2 separate regions of the Homo sapiens genome follow, and region 1 is linked to region 2. The links come from fine-mapping of genetic effects on gene expression. A gene starts in region 2. The other region holds a variant in brackets. All regions are shown on one strand. Distances are between the middles of the regions. Region 1 has its middle 46 kb from the start of ITGAV. Region 2 holds the start of ITGAV (integrin subunit alpha V).

The links. PIP is the estimated chance that this variant, and not a neighbour inherited with it, causes the effect.
Region 1: its variant is fine-mapped to the expression of ITGAV in subcutaneous fat (TwinsUK, PIP 0.95).

What each region holds. Positions count from the first base shown.
Region 1 is chr2:186,539,687-186,548,014 of GRCh38, forward strand. No RefSeq gene overlaps it. Among named protein-coding and RNA genes, the nearest start is that of ITGAV, 46 kb to the right of the region's middle. RefSeq lists enhancers at 2,312-2,821, 2,822-3,329. The variant G/A (reference allele first, on the strand shown) is at 3,424.
Region 2 is chr2:186,586,113-186,594,450 of GRCh38, forward strand. It overlaps ITGAV (integrin subunit alpha V), which reads left to right and starts at 3,944. Exons shown (of 30, transcript NM_002210.5): 1 at 3,944-4,411. The coding sequence starts at 4,227. It overlaps LOC124906105 (a long non-coding RNA gene), which reads right to left and starts at 3,784. Exons shown (of 2, transcript XR_007087465.1): 1 at 2,878-3,784. RefSeq lists a silencer at 4,007-4,236 and an enhancer at 4,367-4,426.

The sequences.
Region 1 (8,328 bases), 46 kb before region 2:
CACCATGTTGGTCAGGTTGGTCTCAAACTCCTGACCTCGTGATCTGCCCACCTCGGCCTCCCAAAGTGCTGGGATTACAGGCGTGAGCCACCACGCCCAGCCTTAAAAGTTTTTATTATGAGTGAGTGTTGAATTTTGTCAAATGCTTTTTCAGCATCTACTGATATAATCACGTGACTTTTCTTCCTTAGTATGTTGATGTAATGGATTATATTAATTGATTTCCAAATGTTGAACCAGCCTTGTATTTCTAGGATAAATTCTCTTTGGTTATGGTCTATAATTTCCTTTAATACATTGTTGGATTTGATTTGCTACATAATTGAATACATTATTACTATTGTTATTTTGAACAAACCATATTTGTTAGCTCAATTAAGAATAAGGAAAATGAAAGTTTTAACTATATTTATTCCTTCTTGATGTTTTTTTCTTTTTCTTTTTCTTTTTTTTTTTTTTTTTGAGATGGAGTCTCACTGTCACCCAGGCTAGAGTGCAATGATGTGAACTCAGCTCACTGCAACCTCTGCTTCCCGGGTTCAAGCGATTTTCCCACCTCAGCCTCCCAAGTAGCTGGGATTACAGGCATCCGCCATCATGCCCAGCTAAATTTTGTATTTTTGTAGAGACGGGGTTTCTCCATATTGGCCAGGCTGGTCTTGAACTCCTGACCTCAGGTGATCCGCCTGCCTTGACCTCCCAAAGTGCTGGAATTACAGGCATGAGTCACTGCACCCGGCTTTCTTGATGTTCTTTTCTTTATTTATATCTCAGCTTCTGACATATCATTTTCCTTCTTTTCTAAATAACTTCTTTTAACATTTCTTGCATGGCAGAGCTTCTAGCAACAAATTCCCTCAACTCTGTTTGTCTGAGACAGTATTTCTCCTTCACTTTTGGAGAATAATTTTGCAGAGTATTCAGTTCTAGGTCAGTGAGGTTTTTTTTCTCTCAACACTTTAAATATTTACTCCACTCTGCTTGCATGGTTTTTGAGCAGTCAGATGTAGCTCTTATCTTTGCTCCTCTATAAGTAAGGTAATTTTTTCCTCTGGCTTATTTCAAGACTTCTTTTTAAACTTTTGATTTTCTGCAGTTTGAATATGATATGTCTAGTTATAGTTTTTTGGTTTTTGCTTCTTTGGTGAATGATGAACTGCAAGTCTGCTTCTTTAGATCTCAATAAAAGTGGAGGAAACTCCTTTTAACTTTAGGGAACCCCCTTCATCCAAAAGAACACTGTGGAATTTTATTCAAACCCAAATGAGAAAGAGGCAGACTTTAAACACATAATCTCTCATACTTCAATGATGAAAGGAGAAACATGCCAAGAAAATGACAAACACTTAATGCAAATCAGAAAATTCTGCAACTTTGTTGAAAATAGTCTCGGTTTTTTCTGCTGTAATTGGTTTAGTGTTGCAGGATTGACTATAATCCCTGCTCAAAATCAGCCTTAGAGCTGTTTTCGTACTACCAGTTTCAGAAGTCTAGAGTTACATGGCGGCTTGCTGCATAACTTAAGTGTTCCGTGTTCACTGGCCACAAAATTACTTCCATATTCTTATTTGCAATCTTTTGTCAAAGAAAGTGCAGTTTCAGTGTGTGCTGCTTTTACAGAGTTCCATCAGAGTTTCTCTATTTTCTTGTTAATTCAGTGACTCTCATATTTGTCAAGAAGATCTTCATTTCCTAAAATATCATAAGGCCCTCTTTTAGAGAAGAGAGAAGATAATCTTTTTATGAGGTAACAAGGCATTTTTTGGTCATACAAATGAGCAAACGAAGTCTAGTGCTTAAAAGCATGGTTCTGCAGCCAGACTATTCAGAATCAGCTCCCACCTTTCTTCACTACCACTAGCTGTGCATCCTTGGAATTTTCTCTTGGTTTCTCCTTTGTAAAATTGGCATAATAGGTTTGGGTGTCAGGATTAACCAAACATACACATTATAAGATTTTTAGGACCATACTTGACAGAATATACACTCAAATATTATACATCACAATTAAATAAATAACACATGAATGGATTATAGTATTTTTGTAGTTTTCTTCCTAAGTGTAGCTTGCCTTGGGATTCAGCATGACTAAAACACATTTGCATACCTACATCCTTTTTTACCTTTTTTTTTCTTTTTTTTCTTGTGTGGGTTTTTTTTGGCCTTCTCGCAAATAATCCTGGGCTTGTCCCTACAAAAACTAAATGCCTTGGGTTTGTCCCTATAGAAACTCTCTTGTTATCTTAAGGATAGCTCAGTGTTTGAGGGGTGAAAAAGACAAAGCAGAGATGCCTCAGGTAAGATCTTGAGTTCATATTCTCTGACATATACTGGTTGGTTTGTGTTGAGTTAGGGTTGAGTTAATATGTATAAAGTGCTTAAAACAATGCCTGGCTGAAGTGTTTGTTTTCCGTTAGGAGAGAGGGAGAGACAGGAAGAAAGTAGCAAAGAATCTGAGAGGGAACTATCTCCAGTTATCCGAGTCATTACCAAATCCTCCTAACTACCTTGGGGTTGCATCACCCTTTCTCCAAGTTACCTGAACACACTATGCTGTCTCCTGTATCAGGAGCCCTATGAATGCTTGTTGTTCTGCCTGGAATGCTCTTGCCATTGCCAACTCACCCACTCTTTCACCCTTTTTTTTTTCTTTTTTTTGAGACAGAGTTTTGCTCTCACCCAGGCTGGAGTTAAGTGGCGAGATCTCGACTCACTGCAACCTCTGCCTCCCGGGCTCAAGCAATTCTCCTACCTCAACCTCCCAAGTAGCTGGGATTACAGGCATGCACCACCACACCCATCTAATTTTTGTATTTTTAGTAGAGACGGGGTTTCACCATGTTGGGCAGGCTAGTCTTGAACTCCTAACCTCAAGTGATCCACCCGCCTTGGCCTCCCAAAGTGCTGGGATTACAGGTGTAAGCCACGGCGCCTGGCCTACTCTTTCATTTTTTAACCCCTGCTCCTCCTTCAGATCTTAGCACAGATGTTGGTCCTTCCTGAGAGAAGGTTTTCTTTGACTCCTAAGTCCTTTGTTATAAGGACACTTCATAGTACTTAACTTTGTCTGAGATTGTGTTTATGATTATTTGGTTAGTCTGTCCACCTGTGGTTAGTCTCAGACATGCTAACCAATCTGTAAATATTTATTAAATAATAAATCAATATTTCTCTCACACTCACAATTTGAAAATTTTCTTCTTCTCCCTAACTTCTTCACTGTGAATGTCTGAACAGTGACTTAAAGAAGTAGCCGCAGGAGAAAAGAGTTGGGGGCTATTTCATCATGTGGCTACATCATCTCATGGTTACATCATTTCATGGCTACATAACTAGGGCAAAAGGAAAAAAGGCATAAATCTTTTTTTTTTTTCTTTTTTGAGACGGAGTGTCGCTCTGCCACCCAGGCTGGAGTGCAGTGGC[G/A]CGATCTCGGCTCACTGCAACATCCGCCTTCTGGATTCATTCCATTCTCCTGCCTCCTCCCAAGCAGCTGGGACTACAGGTGCCCGCCACCACACCCGGCTAATTTTTTGTATTTTTAGTAGAGACGGGGTTTCACCGTGTTAGCCAGGATGGTCTCGATCTTCTGACCTTGTGATCTGCCCGCCTTGGCCTCCCAAAGTTCTGGGATTACAGGCATAAGCCACCGTATCCGGCTCTTTTTTTTTTTTTTCTTTTAATTTGAGACAGAGTTTTGCTCTTGTTGCCCAGGCTGGAGTTCAGTGGCGCAATCTCGGGTCACTGCAACCTCCGCCTCTCGGGTTCAAGCGATTCTCCTGCCTCAGCCTCCCAAGTAGCTGGGATTATAGGCATGCACCACCACCCTTGGCTAATTTTGTAATTTTAGTAGAGACAGGATTTCACTACGTTGGACGGGCTAGTCTTGAACTCCTGACTTCAGGTAATCCATCTGCCTTGGCCTCCCACAGTGCTGGGATTACAGGCATGAGTTACCGCGCCCAGCCATAAATCTCCTTTGACAAAGTGTAGGATACAAGATTTGGAAGTGTTCCTACAGACTCTCTAGTCCAACTTCTTTGGTACTGACAACACAAGAAAATTCATCATTTAGTGTGTGGGTTGAGGACTTTATCCAGCCACCTTCCAAGCAACAACTCCATATACAAAAAAAAAAAATGTGTTTTAAACTATAAGAGCTTAAATGTGACTCATCAACATCTGCTTTCATTAAATATTTTTCTCTCAGAGACTAAAACCACTTACAAAGTTAGAATAATACTTGCAACTTAACACATGGCAAAGGACAAGTCTTTTATGCCACTTTCTTTGTAATTCTCTCATTTTAAATCTTAAATGACTTTCCTCTATCACAGGACTTTTGTGAGGAATGTTTGAAAGGATCTGTTGACTCATAGCTGCAGAACTGCTTAAGTTTGCTTTAATAAGGGAATAATCAAACGCACATCTAATTTAAGTGGAAAACCACTATATTTTGATATTGTAACCTGAGTATTAGAGGATTAAAAGAATTCCAGGCTGAGGGGAGAAAACTCAAAGTTTATTTTGGTCATCTTTCTTTTTAGTCTCCCTTCTTTCTTCCTAAAACAGAGAAATTTTGCCCTGAAACTGCCTCCTCATTGCCCAGAGCCTTCCGTAATAGTTCTTCAAATAACAGGGCCCTGTGCTGTGTTTCAAACTTTGCTTACTTTATCTGTACATCTCATTCCTGCTCTGTTCTTTCTCTACTCAGTTAAAAAAAAAAGGAAAAACATTTCATTGAAGAACATAATCATTGTTAATGTGTTGATAGGCTAACATCCTGTTTCAACAAGATAATAATACCCTTCACCCAGTTAAAATCTCACATTCCAGAAAGTCCCTCAGGAATGACTAATCTGGGGAATTCCAGTCATGGCATCAGACTCCTGGGTTGAAGTATATTTTAGCAGTTCAGGCTTTCTCTCCTTATCCTTTAAATGACACTGTATAAAGAGCTTCCTGTAATTGACTTTGAGCAAAGTAGACTCTGGAAATCAAACAACCAGTTACTGCCAGTTAAACAGCCTAAGAATCCAAGAGGACAAAAAGTTTTGTGCAAATTAAAAGTTGTTTCCTACTTGTAAATTAAAAGTTGTTTCCCTTCTTGGAGACATCTTCAACAAAGCTAAAGCAAAGGATAGACGAAAATAGCAATCAAAGGATTAGTATTCAGACTATATGAAGAATTTCTACAAATTAAGAAAACGTAAGCAATCCAATAGAAAAACAAGCAAAAGTGATGAAGAGGAAATTCATTAAAAATTAAATGCAAATGATCCACAAACATTTGAAAAGATACTCAGCCCCATTTGTAACCAGAAAAATGCGCATTGAAAAAACAATGAGACATGGTTTTTTGTGTACCAGATTAGCAAATATTTAAAAGTTTGATATTATCAAAATATGAGTAGGAAGTGGGTAATCCTTAGTTTTTTTAATATACTGCTAGTGAGAGTGTAAAGTGATAATGCCATTTGTAAGTATCTACAATGTTTAAAATGTGTGCTCTTTGGAAGCAATTCTATGTCTTCCTATTCATCCTAGAAAATACTTCACATATGCATAATGAAGTATTTATAAGGCTGCTAACTGCAGCATCATTTGTATAACAAAATATGGAATAATACTTCTCTGCTGCTTTATTCTCCAAACTGAAATAAATAAATAGGTGCTAGCACCCTCACATTCTAGAGGAATCCACTAATGATCCCCAAAACTTGTTCCCTAAGGATATCTAAAACTGCAGGCATAATATGGAGAGCGTGACGGAACATAGCCTTAAGAGGACCAGCAAACAAGCAGAGAAAGAATCTGAGTCTTTCAGGATATCATTAATCCAATGGCACTAAACTTGGGAGCCGTTCTACTCTGTTCTACCTAAAAAGGATTTCCTTTTTTAAGGTCATCAATGTCTGTTGCAGGCATTTTTATTAGGTTTCTAGCCTTCTTTGCCCAGTCATCCACTAACCTCTAAACCTGATACCTTCTTCATAGACTTTTATGCCCCATTCACAGTCTTCCTCTGCACCTTAATCCATGTCACTCTCCCTTGGATAAACACTGACATATGAATCATGAAGATACTGAAAGTAACACTAGATAATAAAAACTATATTTTGAGCCCTTATTAGGTGTCAAATGTGAGACGCTTTACATACATTATCCCATTTAATCCTCACATCAGTTCTAAAAGCCAGGAAATAATGTGACCTTCATTGTATGGATGAGGATCAGACATGGAAAAGTTTCGGAACTTGCACAGAGTCACCCAACTAGAAAGTGGTAGAGCTGGGATTCTGACTGCAAAGCTGATGTCTGTAAGCACTGGGTCGTATTCCTAACAGTCTTTCCTCACTGCTTTCTGGACTTCCTGAAGCAGACTTACACCTGTAGGCAAGACCTACCCAGACTCACTTGATGTGGTTTCACTTCCAAGATTTTGATCTCTGGAAATCCACAGGCTGACTTCAACTTCAAATCCTCCATTTCTTCATCATCACTGAACTTGTTTTTAATCCTAATGGTGTTTGTTTGTGTCTTGAACTCTCTCTTTTCTTCAGCTTATCCTCCCTTCTCTGAGTTTATTTTTAATGTAAATAATATGCTAATTCCTGACAGTAATACACTCTTCACCGCCTCACAGCATCCCTTGCCATTTTTCTTTTCTCTCATTCCTGTCTTAGCATTTTTAAGCTCAATATAAAGAAAATATGCTTTCTCTACTGTCACTTTCTGGACATTTAACATTCTTAGGGAAAATGAATATGCTGCGTCTACAGCAATTAATATGTCTAATTTTAACTAAGCTCTCATTACTGCCCAGAAATTATTATATTCAGGTACAGTCAACTCTCAACCTTCCATGTAGCCCTCCTGTCCTTCAGCTCCCACCCTATTTCTGGTAATTTCTCAGAATATACCAATCACTTTCTCATTTCCCAGTAAGATTCAAGATATCAGATGTAGACTTTGTGCAGCTTCATTCTCTCCATCTCAGTATATCTTGTTAATTTTAGTCTGTTCGCCCCTTTCCTTTACTCATGCCTCTAATGATGATGGAAGTCCTCCCTTTACGAGGTTCAACCTGGGCTCTGTTCCCATTCTTCTTCACTTCCTTTAGGATCTTATTCCACCAAGGGCCTCTCTTGATGGTGTTTTAATTTGCTCTCTGTTTGAGTTTCTAAAAATATTCTCTCTCCTTATAAATATCCTTCCTTTGACTTGCTGCCCTCTCAAGTTACTGCCCTCTGTTGTTTCTTCTCTTCTTTGGAAAACATCTTTAAAAAGTAGGCTACCATCATAGCTTCCATTTTTCCTACCACCCACTCATTCCTCAGATCCTTGGAATTTTAACTCCACCCTTGGTTCTCTTTCTAAAACTATTCTCTCAAAGGTCACCAATTACCCCATAATTGGCAAAGCCTACAGTTTTTCTCAGGCCTTTGTGTACCACTCAGCATTGTTGAACACTCCCCTGTTTCTTTTAATTTCTTCCTTCCTTGGTACTGTGACTGGTATCATTCCGGATCTACTTCTGGATCACTAATCTTTCCTTATGTGTTCTTTCCTGTCTTCTCTTCCTTCTTCCATCTGCAAAGCACAGACATCAAGTAAGGCTCATCAGTGCACCTTTCCCCCTATACGCCCTCAAGATTCTTAAGTATCTATATGCATACCATTCTAAATGTACCTAAGGTTGTGTGCAGGGGCTCATGTCTGTAATCCCAGCACTTTGGAAGGCCAAGGTATGTGATTTGCTTAAGCCCAGCAGTCTAAGACCAGCCTGGGCAACACAGTGAGACCCTGTATCTACAAGAAATAAATTAAATTCATTTAAACTAAATTTGAAATATAGATATACTTAAAACCCAGACACCCCTAAGTTCCTGATACACATGGAAAACTACCCTCTATATATCTTCAGTTTATATTTTAAAATAGCTATATCTAGCTATCTAATATCCAGTTTTCTAGGTGAGATAGGTACTGACAAGATTCTTTAAAGAACCCATAGTGAATGGAGAAGTGACAGTCAATTATCTATCTAATATAATTGTAGTAGTAGTAATTATAGCAATGATAGCTAACATTTATTGAATCTTGGAATATATGCCAGCCATCAGGCTAAATGCTTTATATTTAAGAATTTATTAAATCTTCACAACAATTTTATGTGGGAGTTACTTGTACTAGCCTTTTAAGAGGTTCTATACAAAGATTTCTCACAAAGCGTTACAACAACCATTGTAGTAGTTATTCTTATTATCCTAATTTTGAAGATGAGCAAGCCAATGTTTAGAGAGATTAAATATCACATAGCTAGTAAGT
Region 2 (8,338 bases):
GGTTATTAACTGAATCTCCTTTGAGGTTCTTTGAGAGAGATAAAATTTGAAATTCCTCTTAAATTATGGACTAAGTTCCTTTGTTTGCAGAGACAGAGCTGCGTGAAGCCCTGGTTTGATTATGGTTATTGAAGGACCTGTTGGACAGACACTAGGGGAACTAAGAGAGTGAAATAATAGTCATAAAAATTTACGGCAGGAGAATTGCTTGAACCCAGGACGCGGAGGTTGCAGTGAGCTGACATGGCGCCACTGCACTCCAGCCTGGTGACAGAGTGACACTTTGTTTCAAAAAAAAAAATTTATTATTGCTACCATGCTAAACTATTAGTCTTAAAAGTATTAATGGCAACAAGAACTGTTCAATTCTAAGAGATAGACATAGTATTACTCCCCTTTCCCTTTCATAGATAAGAAAACTGAGGCACAGATTGGTTGGATTGATTTCCCCAGGGTCATACAACTAGTAGTTGGCAAAGCCAGGAATGGAACCCAGGTGCTTTATTTTACAGAAACCACTGGAATCAAGATTTTTACTAAAGTATAGGGTAGTAGAGGATAAAATTCAAAGTACAAATTCTTTTTACTATCTAATATTTTATTTTCTAAGAAAAGGATTATATTCAATGAATACTTAATGTATACACAGAAGTTCTCCTTTTAAGTTGGAAAACTGTTATAATGTAGTTCAAAGAGTAGTGTCATGGGGGTAGGGGAGGGGCACCACCATTCTTTCGTAGACTAAAACATTCTTTTCTCTGTCCCATGCACATAGTACCAGGTGCAATGTGGATTTTGAATCAGCACTAGCTGAATTGACATGTTCTACAATACAATTTGCAAGGCACTGTGTGAGTGGCTGCTCGAGCATGGTCACACAAAGAGATGCCTGCATTTATAACCCCAAGTTTCTAAAGCCACTGGGTTAGTCTGCTTCATAGTTTCCTAATTGAAATGTATGTTTGCTTTTTTTTGTTGTTAGACAGTCTCGCTCTGTCACCCAGGCTGGAGCACAGTGGCCCACAATACCACAATATCTCGGCTCACTGTAGCCTCTGCCTTCCGGGTTCAAGCAATTCTCCTGCCTCAGTCTCCTGAGTAGCTGAGATTACAGGCACACACCACCATGCCTGGCTACTGTTTTTTCTTTTTTGAGATGGAGTCTCATTCTGTCATCCAGGCTGAAGTGCAGTGGCACGATCTTGGCTCACTGAAACCTCTGCTTCCCAGGTTCAAGTGATTCTCCTGCCTCAGCCTCCCAAGTAGCTGGGATTACAGGTGCCTGCCACTGCACCCAGCTAATTTTTGTATTTTTAGTAGAGATAGGCTTTCACCATCTTGGCCAGGCTGGTCTTGAACTCCTGACATCGTGATCCACCCACTTTGGACTCCCAAAGTGCTGGGATTACAGGTGTGAGTGAGCCACTGCGCCCGGCCAATTTTTGTATTTTTAGTAGAGACGGGGTTTCACTGTGTTGGCCAGGCTGGTCTTGAACTCCTGACCTCAGGTGATCCACCCACCTCGGCCTCCCAAAATGCTGGGATTACAGGCATGAGCCACAGTGCCTGGACTATTTGCTTTTTTAAAAAAAACAAATTCCTTGATTTTCAAGACTGCTCATTCAAAATAAACTCATAAAGAATGGCTCAACAGTAAGTGCTTTCAGTAAGTTGTAGCCCTATTTGGGGGTGTGTTGTTCACCCAAGTTTTGGTGGGTGTACATGTGTTGTCATTTCGTGGGCTTCTTCTTTTCCCTGGTCCTCTCACATTTCTTCACTCCACCTTGGTCTGTCGGACCCCTGTCCTGCGATCAGAAGTTGAGGAGTGGGAGACTTACTGGATCTAGCCAGAGTTTAAACTCTTCTGTCTTCCTTACCTGGATGGATTTCCAGGTAGACTGGTTGTCATGTTTTTAAGATATAAAAGACCCTTTGGGTTTATGCATACATATCAATAGCCTCTTTGGTGTATTAGGAAAGAAGGTGAGAAATAAGCTGTATTTGCATTTATGTGTAAGGATTTGTGTAGGATTTCTTCTCTCAATCAGTAATTTCTTTCAGGCAGATGCTAGACCATGCCTTGTAAAACATGCCAAAGGTTTTGCTGCATATCTTTTAGTCAAATTTAAAAATGGAAATATTTAATGCATTTTTTTTTTGAGATGGAGTCTCACTCTGTGGCCCAGGCTGGAGTGCAGTGGCACCATCTCAGCTTACTGCAGCCTCCGCCTTCCGGGTTCAAGCAATTCTCCTGCCTCAGCCTCCTGAGTAGCTGGGACTGCAGGCGCATGCCGCCACGCCCGGCTAATTTTTTGTATTTTAGTAGAGACGGGATTTCACTGTGTTGCCCAGGCTGGTCTCGAACTCCCGAGCTCAGGCAATTTGCCGGCCTCAGCCTCCCAAAGTGCTAGGACTACAGGCATGAGCCACCTCGCCCGGCCTTTTTTTTTTTTAAACACAGGGTCTTGTTCTGTCACTCAGGCTGGAGTGCAGTGGCAGGCTCATGACTTATCATAACCTGGAACTCCTGAGCCTAAGCGATCTATCTACCTGCCTTAGCCTCCGGCATAGCTGGGACTACAGGCATGCACCACACTCCCAGCTAATTTTTAAATTTTTGTAGAGATGAGGTCTCCCTATGTTCCCCTGGAACTCCCGGTCTCAAGCAATCCTCCTGCCTCAGTCTCCCAAAGTGCTGAGATTGCCAGCATGAGCACCTGGACCTGGTCCAATAAATATTACAAATTCGAATTAGGCATTTCACTTTCATTTATATACATATCCTTTCACAGGATTATTTGATAGTTATTAATGTATATTATGATTGAGTTTTAATAGTTACTTTGGGAAAACAGAAATTACTGTTCCAGTACTTACTTGTAAGTTGTAAGTCCACACAATGCACTTAAACTTCACCTTGTTCAACAGATTCTGTAGCACATGAAACACTTGAAATATGGAAGAGTCACTTCTCTGGGCACTTTGCTCATTTCGTCTGCTATTCATTCACTGATTGGACATTTTATTGATCGACTACTATCTGCTTGGCAAGGTGCTAGAAATAAGAACACTAAGAAAAAGGTCAAGGTTCCTGTCCTCAAGGCCCTCTCTCTCAGTCCAGTGTTGTCAAGGCTTGATGAAACACACCAGTGGCAAACAAGCACGCGGGGCCTTATTTCACCGGTGTGCGGTCCTTCTTCCAGCTCTGAAATTATGTCTATCCAAACATCCTAAATCAACAAATCAGTGTTTCTAAATCATACAACCGCAGCTAACAAACTGGGAATAAGGCTTCGATTATTCTGACTTGATTTAAAACGATCACTGCCAATTCTTTGCCCTGCGAATCCTTTCTTTGACTACTAAGTTAAGCTTTACATACCTCACTTGCAAGAGGCTATGCTGGCTTTCTGGAAATCCGTAATTAAGTTCAGTGTTTGTGGAATGGAGTGTAATTAACGACCATTAATTAACAGGGTTTCGTTCGTGAGAGCCTGCCAGGCTAAGCAGCAGAAACACGAGAAACTGATAAAAAGCTTTCCTCATTTTTAAACAACAGTCGCACGGAAGTTCCCGGCGGGACAAGGGAACGTGGGTGCCCTTGCTACTCCCGTGGACGCGGGTAGATTGGGACGCTGGACCGTATCTCCCCGCCCCCGCCCCCACGCCTCCTCAGGTGCTCAGCCTGAGGCCTTCGTCCAGGAGCGCTGCCGCTGACCCAGGCTCAGGAGCTGGGGGCCCCTGCACAGACGCCCAGGTCTCGGGACAGGCGGCGACTGCACTCACGGAAGTACGCTGAGCTCTCCCCTGTAGAAGGGCGCCTCTCCTCCCCCACTTCCTCCTCCAGCTCCACAGCAGCCTCCCGGGCCGGCTCCTCCTCCTTCCAGGTCTCCTCCCAGTGCCGCCGCGGCTCTCAGGCCTGAGGTGCGGCGCTCACCCCGGCAGTCCCCAGCCTCAGACGCTGCGTGGAGCGGCGGAGCCGGAGGGAAGCAAAGGACCGTCTGCGCTGCTGTCCCCGCCCCGCGCGCTCTGCGCCCCTCGTCCCTGGCGGTCGCTCCGAAGCTCAGCCCTCTTGCCTGCCCCGGAGCTGTCCCGGGCTAGCCGAGAAGAGAGCGGCCGGCAAGTTTGGGCGCGCGCAGGCGGCGGGCCGCGGGCACTGGGCGCCTCGCTGGGGCGGGGGGAGGTGGCTACCGCTCCCGGCTTGGCGTCCCGCGCGCACTTCGGCGATGGCTTTTCCGCCGCGGCGACGGCTGCGCCTCGGTCCCCGCGGCCTCCCGCTTCTTCTCTCGGGACTCCTGCTACCTCTGTGCCGCGCCTTCAACCTAGACGTGGACAGTCCTGCCGAGTACTCTGGCCCCGAGGGAAGTTACTTCGGCTTCGCCGTGGATTTCTTCGTGCCCAGCGCGTCTTCGTAAGTGGCCGCACTTGGAACTGGAGCCGGCCCCCTCCCCCACCGCGCGCACCCACCCAGCGTTTCTCCATTGGGATTGATTTCCGAGAGATCCCGGCGTCTGTCTGTCTCACCCATCCTACCTCTCAGAGTGGTTTATATCCTGGGTGGAGGAAATATTTGGGGAAATGAACTCCCTTTGGTACCCATCACCCAGTTACACCCCGCTTCTCACCTCTTAAAATTGGTTAGGGGCAGCGGGAGAGCTTTGAAGCAGACCTGTGCTTAAAAATCGGGGAAAGTGGGAAATCAACAAAGGCTGGTCTTGCCGGACTCCCCGCCTCCTGTGCCAGTGTCGAGGATTTGGTCAATATCATCCCCGAACTTCTTTTTCTCCTCTACCAGTTAGGCTTCTTGGTAGCCTTTTTCTGCTTTACAGGCTTAACGCCCGTCCTTTTCAGTCTCCCTAAACAAGCCCTCCCCCACTCTTTCCGCCTCTGTCTGATTCTGTTTCTCCTTACTCCTTTTGCAGACATTCTGATGACTTAAAATGACCATACTGTCCTATTGAATTCATTGTGTCTTATCTCTGGGACTGTCAGACATTTGCACATTTGAGGTTGAACAGATGAATTGAATGTGTCATCTGTTCTTTTTATAGTGATTCACTATTTAGGTCATTGTTCAGAAGGAACAAGGGTGTTTGCTGAGTTTTCACTCGCTGCAGGTCATTTGAATACTGCAGTATTTAATAATTCAGTTATGTTTTCAAGTTGCCAACGTTCCGCGTTGCAAGGGCCGTCAGGATTTATAACAGTTATTGCCATTATTGTGTTAGAAATTGTCTCCGACTTTACTGAATGCTGACATCATTCTCACCACCCCACCCCCATGTTAGCGTTAGGAGTACTGTTTTAATGAATGTTGACTGTTTTTTTAATGATGTTTAAATCTTGTTTTCAAGAGAGAAACTGTTCTTAGGGTGCCTTCTAAACGCTTAGACCTTGTAACAACATATTTTTGTTTCCATATTTTCTGTATAAGATATCCCTTCGGGGTGAAGTGGAGGAAAATTTTGACGGTTAGTACGTGGATAGGACCATCTTCTACTACACACATGCCTAATTTGAGGGTGGTCTCAATGGTTTTCTATGACTGTTAGGACACTCAGCAGAATTTAGTCTTAGTGTTTTTCTGAATGTTACTGAGTATCATTCATTTTGGTAACAACCTTTGCAGCAATACATAGATTAGATGCAGTTAATGGAAACTTTGTTAGTGGAGACATTATTTTATGTAGCAAGCTTAGTTTTATTTGTTGTTAGCAGTTACAGTGCTTTCTGTGAGACCTGGAGCACAGATTTTCCAACATGATAAAAATAATCATTATTTAGGCAACATTTACCAATTTCACATTCCATTTAGTCATTTTAGTCAGCATTATCTTTTTATTTATTGTTTTTAACCACAGGGGTGAATACCAAACGTTATCTTTAAACATTTTTGTTTCCAGATACTTTCAAGTGTATACCTTCATGAGACAGAACATTTTAGTTGCTCCCAAGGGTTCAATGTGAGATATAATTTGTAGAGAAATTCTAATGATTTTGAAAATATATGTCTTCAGTCAAAAATTAGCATTTAAATACTTCAGGCCAGGCACAGTGGCTCACACCTGTAATCCCAGCACCTTGGGAGGCCAAGATGGGCAGATTGTCTGAGCTCAGGAATTTGAGACCAACCTGGGCAACATGGTGAAACCCTGTCACTACAAAAAAATACAAAAATTAACCGGGCATGGTGGTGCACACCTGTAATCCTCGCTCTGCGGGAGGCTGAGATGAGAGGATTGCTTGGAAAGTTGAGGTTGCAGTGAATGGAGATTGTGCCACCACACTGTGGCCTGGGCGATAGAGAGAGACTGTCTCAGAAACAAAAACAAAATCAAAAACAACAAACAATAACAACAACAAAATAAAGTTGATGGCAGTGTTTTACAATGTTACTGTTAATTCTTCAGCAGTGCTCTGAGTTTAGTGTAAGATAAATGAGAGGCTGATAAACTTTAAGTGTTTTTTTTTTTTCCATGAAAAATGCAGTGATGTTGAACTCTTCATGATATTTGCTACTGCTGATTACAAACCAGGGTGACTAATCTTTGGCCAGTCATTATAATCAATGAATGTGTTATGACCTCACAGGTTTACATGACTTCACTCATAGACCTTTAATGATAAAGTAAAATTGAACTTGGGTTTGGTTGCATATAATATTTTGAAATATTCATCAGCAACTTTGTTACCGATAGACTACAGAGCTCTAGGTATAGGTAACTTAAAAAATGGAAACCAACCTTGAATTTTTTTCTTTTTTCTTTTTAAACAAAACGTATATAAACACAGGTTTTTACTTACTGAGCTTTTCAGATTTAACAAAAATTTATGTAAAATTTTGCTGAATTTTCTAGAAGGGCACTTTAAATTTAACAAGCATTGGAATCCAAGGTACTTGGGATGCCATTTCCAATATTACCAGTTGGATTTATTGTTATTTGGTATTACCATAAACTTTTAAAAGAAAAAAAGCCACATAATGAAAAAGTATTTGTCAATTCAAGAGCGCCTTTCTTCTGAGGGGAGAAGGATTTGTGAGGAGCAGTGGTTGTGACGTCCACTCCTGTTGCTTTTTCCAGTTTTGGTGTCCACATACCTTGGGGAAGCTGTAGAATTATTTTATGCCTAATTTTTCTCTTTATAGAAAATTATTATTGAATTATCTGCATAGTTCATAGTTTTGTTGTGAAAATTAATGAATCAATATTTATTAAAGGGAAGGACAAAGTACTAAGCAAAATGTTAAGGCGGCCCCTCAAAAAATCACTCCAGAAATGAGTCAGGTTCGAAGTAAAAATTCACAAATATAGTGATTTTCAAAATTATGAAAAAACATTCGCATTCTGTTTTTTTTTCTATAAGCATTTATTTATGCTATGTTGTAAAACTTACATAAAATTTAAAGATTGTATGCAGGCTAATAATTAGAGTCATACTTTTCTTGTGGAGACTAATTGGAAAAATTAAAAATTACATCCTAGGTTTAATTATAATGATGACATCTTATTTTGGTAAACATATTTTATAATTTGCTAAGCACTTATATCTCATTTCATTCTATAGCCCACACCACCGGGGGGAAGTAAGGGGAAGCAGATATACTCATTCTTACAGATGAGGAGGAAATGGAGGCAGAACCGTTTGCAGTCTAGTTATTTGAGTAGGTTGGTGTGAGTAGAGGGTAAGGAAGGGAAGGATCCGAAGACAGGGTGTAAAATTCAAATCCCACTTTTATTAATTCAAATATTGAATTTTTAAAGAAAATAACTGAACAATTTTAAAATTCATTCTTCAAATATATGTTATACAGTTCTCATTTTATGTATTTCTTTATTTTAAAATAATGCTATAATGAATGACACTGGATTCTTGCCTTTCCCCCCATTAAACGCTAATGGAGCCTTATCTTACAGTTGGCAATGTGTAGATGTGTATGCCTTAGAAGCAGAAGGTCCTTCAATGGTTCTCAGTCCTAACTTCATGTTTGCAATATCTGGAAAGCCTTTTAAATAAAACTCTTGCCCTGGCTGTATCTTAAATCTAAAAGTAGATCTCTGACTTGATATTCCAGTGGCCTGGCCTGTGAATCATTTCTCGTTGACTAGCCTGTCTTAACTCAATTTGACTAAAAAGTCTTCACCAAGAGATGTTAGTTGCACCTCTGTTTCTATTAATGCTGGCATCATTTTCTCTGTCACCTTGGAAATACTTTCATATTCCTCCCTCTCATGTTCTATTTTTCTGTGTTTCTCCTACTTCACCACCTTAATATCAGTCAGTGATTAGTCAACAGGCAGAAGCTCCTAGAAATTCTTCCTTTTTAAGGTTTTCTTGA